2 separate regions of the Homo sapiens genome follow, and region 2 is linked to region 1. Evidence: fine-mapped expression QTL. A gene starts in region 1. The other region holds a variant in brackets. All regions are shown on one strand. Distances are between the middles of the regions.

Region 1 (5,383 bases):
GGGCAGGTCTTTCCCCTGCTGTTCTGGTGATAGCGAATACGTTTCATGAGATCTGATGGTTTTAAAAACTGGAGTTTCCCTGCACAAGCTCTCTCTCTCTCTGCCTGCAGCCATCCGCGTAAGACGTGACTTGCTCCTTGTTGCCTTCCGCATGATTGTCAGGCTTCCCCAGCCATGTGGAAATATAAGTCCTTTAAATCTCTTTCTCTTATAAATTGTCCAGCCTCAGGTATGTCTTTATCAGCAGCATGAAAACAAACTAATACACATTCCCAAAGCAAAGTCCTAGAATTCCATTTGAAATCTCCTTCAAAAAAGAACAGACTTGAGAAACTTACTACACTCACTCTTGGGAAGAAAAAGGTTAACAAGAATTTTTAACAAATGGAATATGAATAGATTTTTGCCCCCTTGAAATCCACCTCCTTCTTGTCTCTTTGGAAATATTTTTTTTTAATCTTTCAAGCTCTCTGAATAAAACATATTTTAAAGTTAATGAAAAACTGAAACTGAACTAAGTGAATAAATCTTTTCAAGGCAATAAACTCAGGGAGGGGTCATGCTGGCAGAACACAGACATCTCTGGGTCAAGAGTCAGGTCAGGTCACTGCATCACTTTGGAGATCCTCACAGGCCCATTCTCCTCACAGAAATACTCAATGACCACCCTCCCAGGAGACACTGTACTGTGCCCCACTGTGTGCTTGAATTTTTTTTTTTTTTTTGGGACGGAGTCTTGCTCTGTCACCCAGGCTGGAGTGCAGTGGCGTGATCTCAGCTCACTGCAAGCTCTGCCTCCTAGGTTCACGCCATTCTCCTGCCTCAGCCTCCTGAGTAGCTGGGACTACAGGCGCCCGCCACCATGCCCGGCTAATTTTTTGTATTTTTAGTAGAGATGGGGTTTCATCACATTAGCCAGGATGATCTCGATCTCCTGACCTCGTGATCCGCCCGCCTCGGCCTCCCAAAGTGTTGGGATTACAGGCGTGAGCCACCGCACCTGGCCTGTGTGCCTGAATTTCTAAGCCCTTTTCTGCCTAAACTTTAACATGCTTGCAGCTCTTATACCTGGTGTTTTTCCCCATTGCAATACTTTAGAATAAACTCTCTTTTTTTTTTTTTTCTTTTTCAAACTGAGTCTCCCTCTGTCACCCAGGCTGGAGTGCAGTGGCACCATCTCAGCTCACTGCAACCTCCACCTCCTGGCCTCAAGCGATTCTCCTGCCTCAGCCTCCTGAGTAGCTGGGATTACAGGCATGCACCACCAGACTGGGCTAATTTTTGTATTTTTAGTAGAGACAGTGTTTTGCCATACTGGCAAGGCTGGTCTCAAACTCCTGACCTCAAGTGATCTGCCTCCCTTGGCCTCCCAAAATGCTGGGATTACAGGCGTGGGCCACCACGCCCAGCCAACTCTCTTCTTACATAATTCTGATGATGGTGCTTTTCTGGTTCTTGCACCACCTCACTGGGGTGGGTATTCCTTGTCCTTTGAGATAGTTTTTCTCCTTTCCCAAGTCCGAGAAAATCCAGAGCGCAGGAATCATTTCTAGATTTTTCCCTTAATACCAGCATCTGACTGGCTGCCACCAACGTGTCTCCAAGGAATGATGAAAACTGGGGTTGGAGGAAGAAAATCCCAATGCACCAGGGATTTGTTTTTTAAACGAAGAGTATACTAGGAGACGTCTCTCAACTCCAGGGCACCCAGATGCTGCCTGGAGAGGCTCTACTTCCATATTTTAAACTGTCCTCTGTGAGGAGATGACCCAGGAGAAGGTATTCATTAGACACTCCAAGAGATCTGGCTGCTAAACAGAGGACCAAGAAAAGATATAAGGGTGGCTGAGGACATATCACCCTCTAAAGTTTCCAAAAGGGAACTTCACCCCAAAGATACTCTGGTAAGATGTGCACACTCAAAAAAGATAAAATTAGGAGATGCACAAAGACTTTTTTTTTCTACAATTAACTGTCAGGTGATTATTTTCTGCTTTCCACTCATGTGTAATGTTCAGAAATATTTTAAGAGTGAAAACAAATATTTTCAGAACGACTCACTACTCTGAAAAAAATAACACACTTCATCTGTATGAAATGTACAATAAAAGACAAATACTTGATAATGTTGCATTTGAATATAGGAAAAGAATTGGAAATTTAGGGTTTTACTACAAGCCCCAGAAGAGTTAGGCTGTGGGAACAGGGTCGTTGATGTGAGATCCTGTTGCCATACACTTAGAAATGTGGAGTGTTATGTGAAAATAATTAAACACAGGCACTAGGGAGACTGAGGTGGGGGGATCGCTTGAGCCCGAGTCCAAGACTCCATCATACACATGTACATACACACATGAATGAATAAACAACCAACCAAAACGTAACTCATGCTTGTCTTGTAAATTAATAACTTAAAGGGAAACAAAACAGCCTTAAACAACCACGAACCCACCAATTAACCTCTGGTTACATAACCAGGAGATATCTGGCTGCACAGTCTATATGGGGTGACTACATAACTGTACACGATCAATTATTTAATTGGGTTTGCTTCCTCGGGTTCCTTACAAAAAACCCTTTCCTTCCCCAAACCACAAACCACGCTGGTGGCTTCCTAACTCACGACTCTCTGCTCAAATAAACTCCTTAATATTTTAACGGCGCCTCAGTTTTCTTTCTAACAGGAGAAAGGAGGATTTGGAGACTTCACAGACCACAGCTCCTCCCACGCAGGAACCCCGAACCCCAAGTCGGGACTCTCCCCTGAGGACCCTCCCGTCGGCACCGCACGATCCGAGGGAGATGCGGGTCTACAGAGGCAGAGCTGCCCAGAAAGGGTTCCGGGCCTGGCCGAAGCGGCGGGGCAGGGACAAGCCAGGCGGCCCGGGGTCTGGCTGCGGGTCCAGCCCCGCATCCTGTGCCACTAAGGCCGCGAGGCGCCGGCGGAAACTCGGGTCGGCACCGCGGGGAGGTCCGGGTTCGCCACAACCGCTTCCTGGCGGTTCCCTTTTCCCCTTCCCGAGACACCTGGCCGGCACACTCACCATTTCCCAGTCTCCGGTGTCTGGGGTCCTCCCTAAGGACCTTCCGGGACCTGCAGGTCCCAGAGCAACAGAAGCTGCCGCGGGACCACTTGGACCTCCCAGGGATAAGGGGAAGGAGCAGCGGAGACGCACCGAGCTCGCCACATTCGCGCTGCCCAACACAAAAGCCGCGCCAGGTCCCGGAAGCTGCTCCCTCCTTTCGCGGCGCGCTTGAGAGTACAGTCCCCTTCCCAGCGCCCGATTGGACAGGGCCTTAGGCCCCGCCCCTTCAGTCCTGAGTGACGGGAGATGCAATCAGACACGGCGCTGAGTGAGGCCAGGTTCTTTCCCTGCAGTCCTTTTCTAAGGCATGGATTCTGCCCTGTGCTGAGACCTGGCGCCCCCCGGGGGACTTTCCCATTCAAGCTCATACACAGGATTATGTCCATTTATGAGTAATATTTGTGATATTTACAATTGGAAACACTATGATGACAATTATTCTAAAATTTCAGATTTCACAACCTTCCTGGCCTCTGGTCTTTTGAGGAGGCAGCCTGAATTTTTTTTTTTTTCTTGCTTCTAGTGGGATTAGAGGCAGCTTGAATTTTGAAAAGACAATGTCCTCTCAGGTAGCAACGCCCCATAGAAATAAAATGTGAGCCGCGTGTGTTCCAGTAGCAATAGAAAAGAAAACAACACGTGAAATTGATTACAATGATTTATTTAACCAAATATATCCAAAAATATTGTTTCAATATATGATCGATGTTAAGCTCGCGCCTAATTGAAGAGACTACCCAAACAGGTTAAGTGTGAGCAGCAAGGCTAGTTTACTCACTCGGGTGCGAGCGGGCTGAGTCCGAAAAGAGGGTCAGCGGAGGGTCGTGGGATTGGAGTTAGTTTTATAGGTGAGGGGTAAGCAGTGGAAAGTTACAGTCAGGGGCCGTTTATTACCGGCGGGGGAAGAATGTCACAAAGTACATTGTCACAAGAGGGAGGGGTCACAGTGTCACTAGGCTGATTGATCAGTTAGGGTAGTGCACGTCACAACGGTAAAATGCTGCAAGGTTGGCTAATCAGCTAAGACAGAAACTAGCCGTTTTTCTTCCTTTGTGGTTTTCCTGTTGTCCCAGACTTTCTGGCTCCAGGACCTTCTGGATGTACACGTGTGGGTCACAGGGATCACAATGGCTTGACCATGGCGCAGCCTGCTCAGACGGCCTTACAATCGATATATTATTAATGAAAAATCACTCTATATATTAAGCTTCCAGCATGTTTCAATTCAGCCTGCACATTTGGATACACGTGTCTGGTTTTACCACTTTATTTTAAGGTTGTTCGGGAATGTCTGCCTGTTCCTTTCATGTAACTGTTCATTATTTATTGATTACTATTTCTTAATTTCACTTATCTCAGTGAGAGTTGCCAAATAGTGGTTTTCTAATTATTTTCTCTACAGGTATTAGTTCTCATTCTTCTATTAAAAATGGCGTTTTCTCATGAACTCTCTCCATTACATTAAAACCTACCCTATTAGGAAAGGAAGAATAAAAGCTTGATTCTCCCTTTAATCAATTGTCATAACAATGACGGCGTGGCCTCAGCAAACAAAAAAAATGTGAGTGACTTTTTTCTAACCTTATTTTTTGTGTATTTAATGAGATTCCATACACTGCAGTCTGTATCTATTTTTTGAGCTCAAATTATCCCTTTTTTTTTTTTTTTTTTTTGAGACCGAGTCTCACTCTGTTGCCCAGGCTGGAGTGCAGTGTGGCATGATCTCGGCTCACTGCAACCTCTGCCCCCCGGATTCAAGCGATTCTCGTGCCTCAGCCTCCTGAGTAGCTGGGATTACTGGCACCCACCACAACGCCTGATTAATTTTTGTATTTTTACTAGAGACAGGCTTTCACCATATTGGCCAGGCTGGTCTGGAACTCCTGACCTCAGGTGATCCACCCACCTCGGCCTCCGAAAGTGCTGGGATTACAGGCGTGAGCCACCGCGCCCGGCCAAATTGTCCCATCGTAAGTGAGGGGCTCTATACATTGCCTCCTTTGTCCTTGTACCATATGTTTTGAGAGCTTTCTTATTTTCTGGAGCAGACAGAAACTGTGTGCTTCCCTTTTTCTGTTATATACGTTGCAAAAAGATGACCATTTGGCATTTTCCTTTTTACTTGGCTTATGGCGTTTCCTAACACTCACAATATTCTGGTTTTATATTGTATCTTTATCAATGTTTTAATTTAATATTTCTTGGTTTTAGTCATAAGCCCGATTTATCCTCACAGCTTGTAGAAATATTTATCAACGTTTTCTTCTATTTTTATGTTTTCTTGTCTTTTTTTTTTT
Region 2 (5,383 bases), 51 kb before region 1:
CACCTGCGCTGGAAGGTTGTGGGTTTACAGGAATGAGGGCAAGGAACACCTGGCCCACCCAGGGCGGAAAACCACTTAAAGGCATTCTTAAGCCACAAACAATAGCATGAGCAATCTGTGCCTTAAGGACATGTTCCTGCTGCAGTTAACTAGCCCAACCTATTCCTTTAATTAGGCCCATCCCTTCGTTTCCCATAAGGGATACTTTCAGTTAATTTAATATCTATAGAAACAATGCTAATGACTGGCTTGCTGTTAATAAATACATGGATAAATCTTTGTTCGGGGCTCTCAGCTCTGAAGGCTGTGAGACCCCGATTTCCCACTTCACACCTCTGTATTTCTGTGTGTGTGTCTTTAATTCCTCTAGCACTGCTGGGTTAGGATCTCCCCAACCAAGCTGGTCTCCGCAAGTGACGTCCATTGTGGGGGCTTGAATCCAGGTCGAAGGGTCACCAGAGCAACAGTTAGAGAATGTGGAACTAGCTGGAGGACGCCAGAGTACTCTTAAAGCAATCCCCGTGGTAAGTAAGAAGGGGAGCTCGGAAGCATCAGGGTAACAATGGGACAAGTGTGGGCTCTGGTTCCTTCCACCTTGGAGCTTTTTCACACTGATGATGAGGAGGAAGGAGAGTACAGCAAAGTAACAGAAGAGGGTACAGAGCATGTTTATTTACCAGCTAAAGCTAAAGCGGCAAAGGAAGGAGAGGTTCATCCCTACCCTTCTGAACCCCCTCCTTATTATCTTGAAGAAAATGACCCTCCAGATCTTTCTTTTCTGGAGGACACTGGGCAAAAAGTAGTTGCCCCAGTGACTGTTCGAGCAGCGCCTTGAGCAACCCCTCTTAGTTCTATTCAGGCAGGAATTCAGCAAGCTAGACAAGAGGGTGATTTAGAGGCTTGGCAGTTCCCTGTTAGAATACACCCCCCAGATCAACAGGGAAATATTATAGCTACATTTGAGCCTTTTCCTTTTAAATTGGGGAAAGCATATTTAGTTGATTATATCAAGGCCTGTGATGGTATCAGAGGTAATCTGCATAAAGCTACTTTGTTGGCACAGGCAATAGCAGGACTGATAGTGGATAAAGGAAATACTCCATTTCCTGGAGCTTGTTTTAACTGTAGGAAGCATGGTCATACTGAAAAAGAATGTAGAAAAAATCAGCGAGTCAGGCCGCCAGATAGGGGAAAGAAGAAAACTGTTGAGCCTGAAATATGTCCAAAATGTAAAAAGAAAAACACTGGGCTAGTCAGTGTCACTCTAAGTTTGATAAAGATGGGAACCCAATTTCGGGAAACACCATGAGGGGCCCGTCCCGGGACCCGTTCTAAACCAGGGCATTTCCAGCTCAGGCCATTCCCTCACCCCTGTACAACGTCTGTCCCCCGCCACAGCCAGTAGTGCCACAGTAGATTTATGCTGCACAAAAGCTGTGAGCCTTCTGCCTGGAGAACCCCTGCAAAAGGTCCCAACAGGAGTCTGTGGACCCTTGCCAGCGGGGACAATAGGATTACTTTTAGGAAGGTGTAGTTTAAGTTTAAAAGGCGTACAAATACATACAGGAGTCATTGATTCAGATTACAATGGGGAAATTCAAATTGTTATATCTACTTCTGTTCCCTGGAAGGCAGAGCCAGGAGAGCGCATAGCACAGCTCCTGATTGTGCCATATGTGGAAATGGGGAAAAGTGAAACTAAACGAACAGGAGGATTTGGAACCACAAATAAACAAGGCAAAGCAGCTTATTGTGTGAATCAAATTACTGATAAACATCCTACCTGTGAAATAACTATTCAGGGAGAGAAATTTAAAGGTTTGGTAGATACAGGAGCGGACATTTCAATCATTTCTCTACAGCACTGGCCATCCGCGTGGCCAATTCAACCTGCTCAATTTAACATAGTTGGAGTTGGTAAAGCCCCTGAAGTATATCAAAGTAGCTATATTTTGCATTGTGAAGGGCCCGATGGAAAACCTGGGACTATTCAACCAATTATAACTTCTGTACCTATAAGTTTATGCAGAAGAGATTTATTACAACAATGGGGAGCACAAATTATAATTCCAGAACAATTATATAGCCCTCAAAGTCAACATATGATGCATGAAATGGGGTATGTCCCTGGTACAGGACTAGAAAAAAATTTGCAAGGTTTAAAAAGTTCCCGCCAAAGATTGGGATGTCATTTTTGATGGCAGCCATTGTTAAGCCTCCAGAACCTATACCTTTAAAATGGTTAACAGATAAGCCAATTTGGACAGAACAATGGCCGCTAAGAGAAACTGGAGGCTTTAGAGAAATTAGTTACTGAACAATTCAAAAATGGGCACATAGCTCCAACATTTTCCCCTTGGAATTCTCCAGTTTTCGTAATTAAGAAAAAATCAGGTAAATGGAGAATGTTAACTGATTTAAGAGCCATCAATTCAGTTATACAACCTATGGGAGCATTACAGCCAGAATTGCCTTCTCCTGCTATAATTCCAAAAAATTGGCCTTTAATAGTCATAGATTTAAAAGACTGTTTCTTTACTATCCCCTTAGCTGAGCAAGACTGTGAATGGTTTGCATTTACAATTCCTGCAGTAAACAACCTGCAGCCTGCTAAGTGTTTTCATTGTTTTACAGATGGGTCTAGTAATGGTAAAGCTTCTTATTCTGGCTTGAAAAGTAAAGTTTTTCAGATGCCCTACACTTCAGCTCAAAAAGCGGAGCTTGTAGCTGTAACTGAGGTATTGACTGATTTTGATATGCCTATTAATGTGGTTTCTGATTCCTCACATGTGGTTCATTCCACACAGTTAATTGAAAATGCTCAGTTACGATTTCAAAAAGATGAACAACTGATGACTTTATTTACCCAACTGCAAACAGCAGTTAGAAGTACAAAGCATCCTTTTTACATCAACTCACATTAGGGCTCATACACCTCTTCCAGGACCTTTGACCGAAGGGAATCAAATGGCTGATCGCCTAGTTGCTACTGCAATATCTAATGCTAGACACTTTCACAATTTAACCCATGTTAATGCCTCTGGTCTCAAACGCAGATACAGTATTACCTGGAAAGAAGCTAAAGCTATTATCCAGAGATGCCCAACTTGCCAAATGGCACATTCCTCATCTTTTACA[T/G]GAGGAGTTAATCCTCGAGGATTGGAACCTAACTCTCTTTGGCAAATGGATGTCACACATGTTCCCTCGTTTGGGAGACTAGCTTATGTACATGTATGTGTGGACACCTTTTCTCACTTTGTCTGGGCTACATGCCAATCAGGAGAGTCTTCTGCCGGTGTTAAACGTCATCTTTTGCAGTGTTTTGCGGTGATGGGCATTCCAGCTTCTATTAAAACAGATAATGCCCCAGGCTATACTAGCCAAGATCTAGCTACATTTTTCTCTATGTGGAATATTGAACACATTAATGGTATCCCATACAATTCTCAAGGACAAGCCATAGTGGAAAGAATAAATCTCTCCCTAAAAGAGCAGTTGCAAAAGCAGAAAGGGGGAGACAGAGAATATGGAACCCCACAGATCCATCTGAACCTAGCATTATTAACTTTAAATTTTTTGACCCTGCCCAAAGGCCAGATGTTATCAGCAGCCGAACAGCATCTACAGAAACCACCTGCAAAGACAGAAACAGAACAACTGATTTGGTGGAGAGATCCAATAACAAAAAGTTGGGAAATAGGTAAAATAATAACTTGGGGTAGAGGTTATGCTTGTGTTTCTCCAGGCCAAAATCAACAGCCTATTTGGATACCACGAAGACACCTGAAACTTTATCATGAGCCAGATGCAGAGGAAGAGATTCCGGGATGATCCCGAGGACCCCCCTGGTTGCAGCCATGTCGAGACTGATGCTGAGGAGGACCCCACCTGTCACGAGCAACACCTGTTGAACACAGCCACCCAACTGGGGACAGATCAAGAAGCTGTCACAGATGGCGGAAGAAAACCTGAGGAAAGCGGGACAACCAGTCACAATGAGTAATTTAATGGTAGCTATGATAGTGGTTATCACCACTGCTGTGAGTATTCCTTCAACAAGGGCTGACACAGAGAACAATTACACTTACTGGGCATATTTATCAATCTTGGCTGGTAATAATGCCTGGATGTAATCACTATGACACAGTTACACATGTTTTCTGATCTCAGTTTTTACCATAATAAATTTGCTCCTATAATTGAGGCATACTGCCCTCAAAAACCTATTTGTAAACAAAATTGAACCTGGCCAGAAAAAAAGAATGTACTTGTTTAGGAAGATTGCATTGCAGAAGAGGCAGAGGTGCTGCACAACAATTCCTATGGAATCATTATTGATTGTCCCCTAAGGGGATGTTTAGCTTAAATTGCACCTCTCAGTCTGCGTGCCATGGCCACATTATGTTCAGCTGGTCTGAACAAAATGGTCAGATGGCAGAAATGATAAGAAGTATAGCAAGAGTTCCTATTATCTGGAATCATGGCGGTATAATGGCATCTCAACCTCAAATGATATGGCCCGTTGTAGGAGCTAAACATAAGGATTTGTGGAAACTTTTAAATGCTCTTAATAAGATAAAAATTTGGGAAAGAATAAAAAAGCATCTAGAAGGACACTCTACAAACTTGTTTTTGGATATCACAAAATTAAAAGAACAAATATTTAAAGCATCCCAGGCACATCTGACCTTAATGCCAGGAACTGGAGTGCTTGAAGGAGCTGCAGACAAATTAGCAGCTAGTAACCCATTAAAATGGATAAAAACACTTGGAATCTCTGTGATTTCAATGATGATTGTGCTTTTAATCTGTGTTGCTTGTCTTCGTATAGTCTGCAGATGTGGATCCTGACTCCTGCGAGAAGTAGCTCACCATGACAAAGCTGCCTTTGCTTTTATCAATTTGCAAATCAAAGAAGGGGGACATGTTGGGAGCAAGCCCCTCAAAATCTGGCCATAAACTGGCCCCAAAACTGGCCATAAACAGAATCTCTGCAGCACTCTGACATGTTCATAATGGCCTTAATGCCTGCGCTGGAAGGTTGTGGGTTTACAGGAATGAGGGCAAGGAACACCTGGCCCACCCAGGGCAGAAAACTGCTTAAAGGCATTCTGAAGCCACAAACAATAGCATGAGCGATCTGTGCCTTAAGGACATGCTCCTGCTGCAGTTACCTAGCCCAACCTATTCCTTTAATTTGGCCCATCCCTTCGTTTCCCATAAGGGATACTTTCAGTTAATTTAATATCTACAGAAACAATGCTAATGACTGGCTTGCTGTTAATAAACACGTGGGTAAATCTCTGTTCGGGGCTCTCAGCTCTGAAGGCTGTGAGACCCCGATTTCCCACTTCACACCTCTATATTTGTGTGTGTGTGTCTT

Evidence for each region. PIP is the estimated chance that this variant, and not a neighbour inherited with it, causes the effect.
Region 2: its variant is fine-mapped to the expression of ZNF670 in whole blood (TOPMed, PIP above 0.99).

The regions. Positions count from the first base shown.
Region 1 is chr1:247,075,550-247,080,932 of GRCh38, forward strand. ZNF670 (zinc finger protein 670) reads right to left here and starts at 3,262. Exons shown (of 4, transcript NM_033213.5): 1 at 3,045-3,262. The coding sequence starts at 3,047. It overlaps ZNF670-ZNF695 (ZNF670-ZNF695 readthrough (NMD candidate)), which reads right to left and starts at 3,262. Exons shown (of 7, transcript NR_037894.2): 1 at 3,045-3,262. RefSeq lists silencers at 3,125-3,438, 3,227-3,296.
Region 2 is chr1:247,024,738-247,030,120 of GRCh38, forward strand. All of the region lies in intron 1 of ZNF670-ZNF695 (ZNF670-ZNF695 readthrough (NMD candidate)), which reads right to left. Among named protein-coding and RNA genes, the nearest start is that of ZNF695, 19 kb to the left of the region's middle. The variant T/G (reference allele first, on the strand shown) is at 3,139.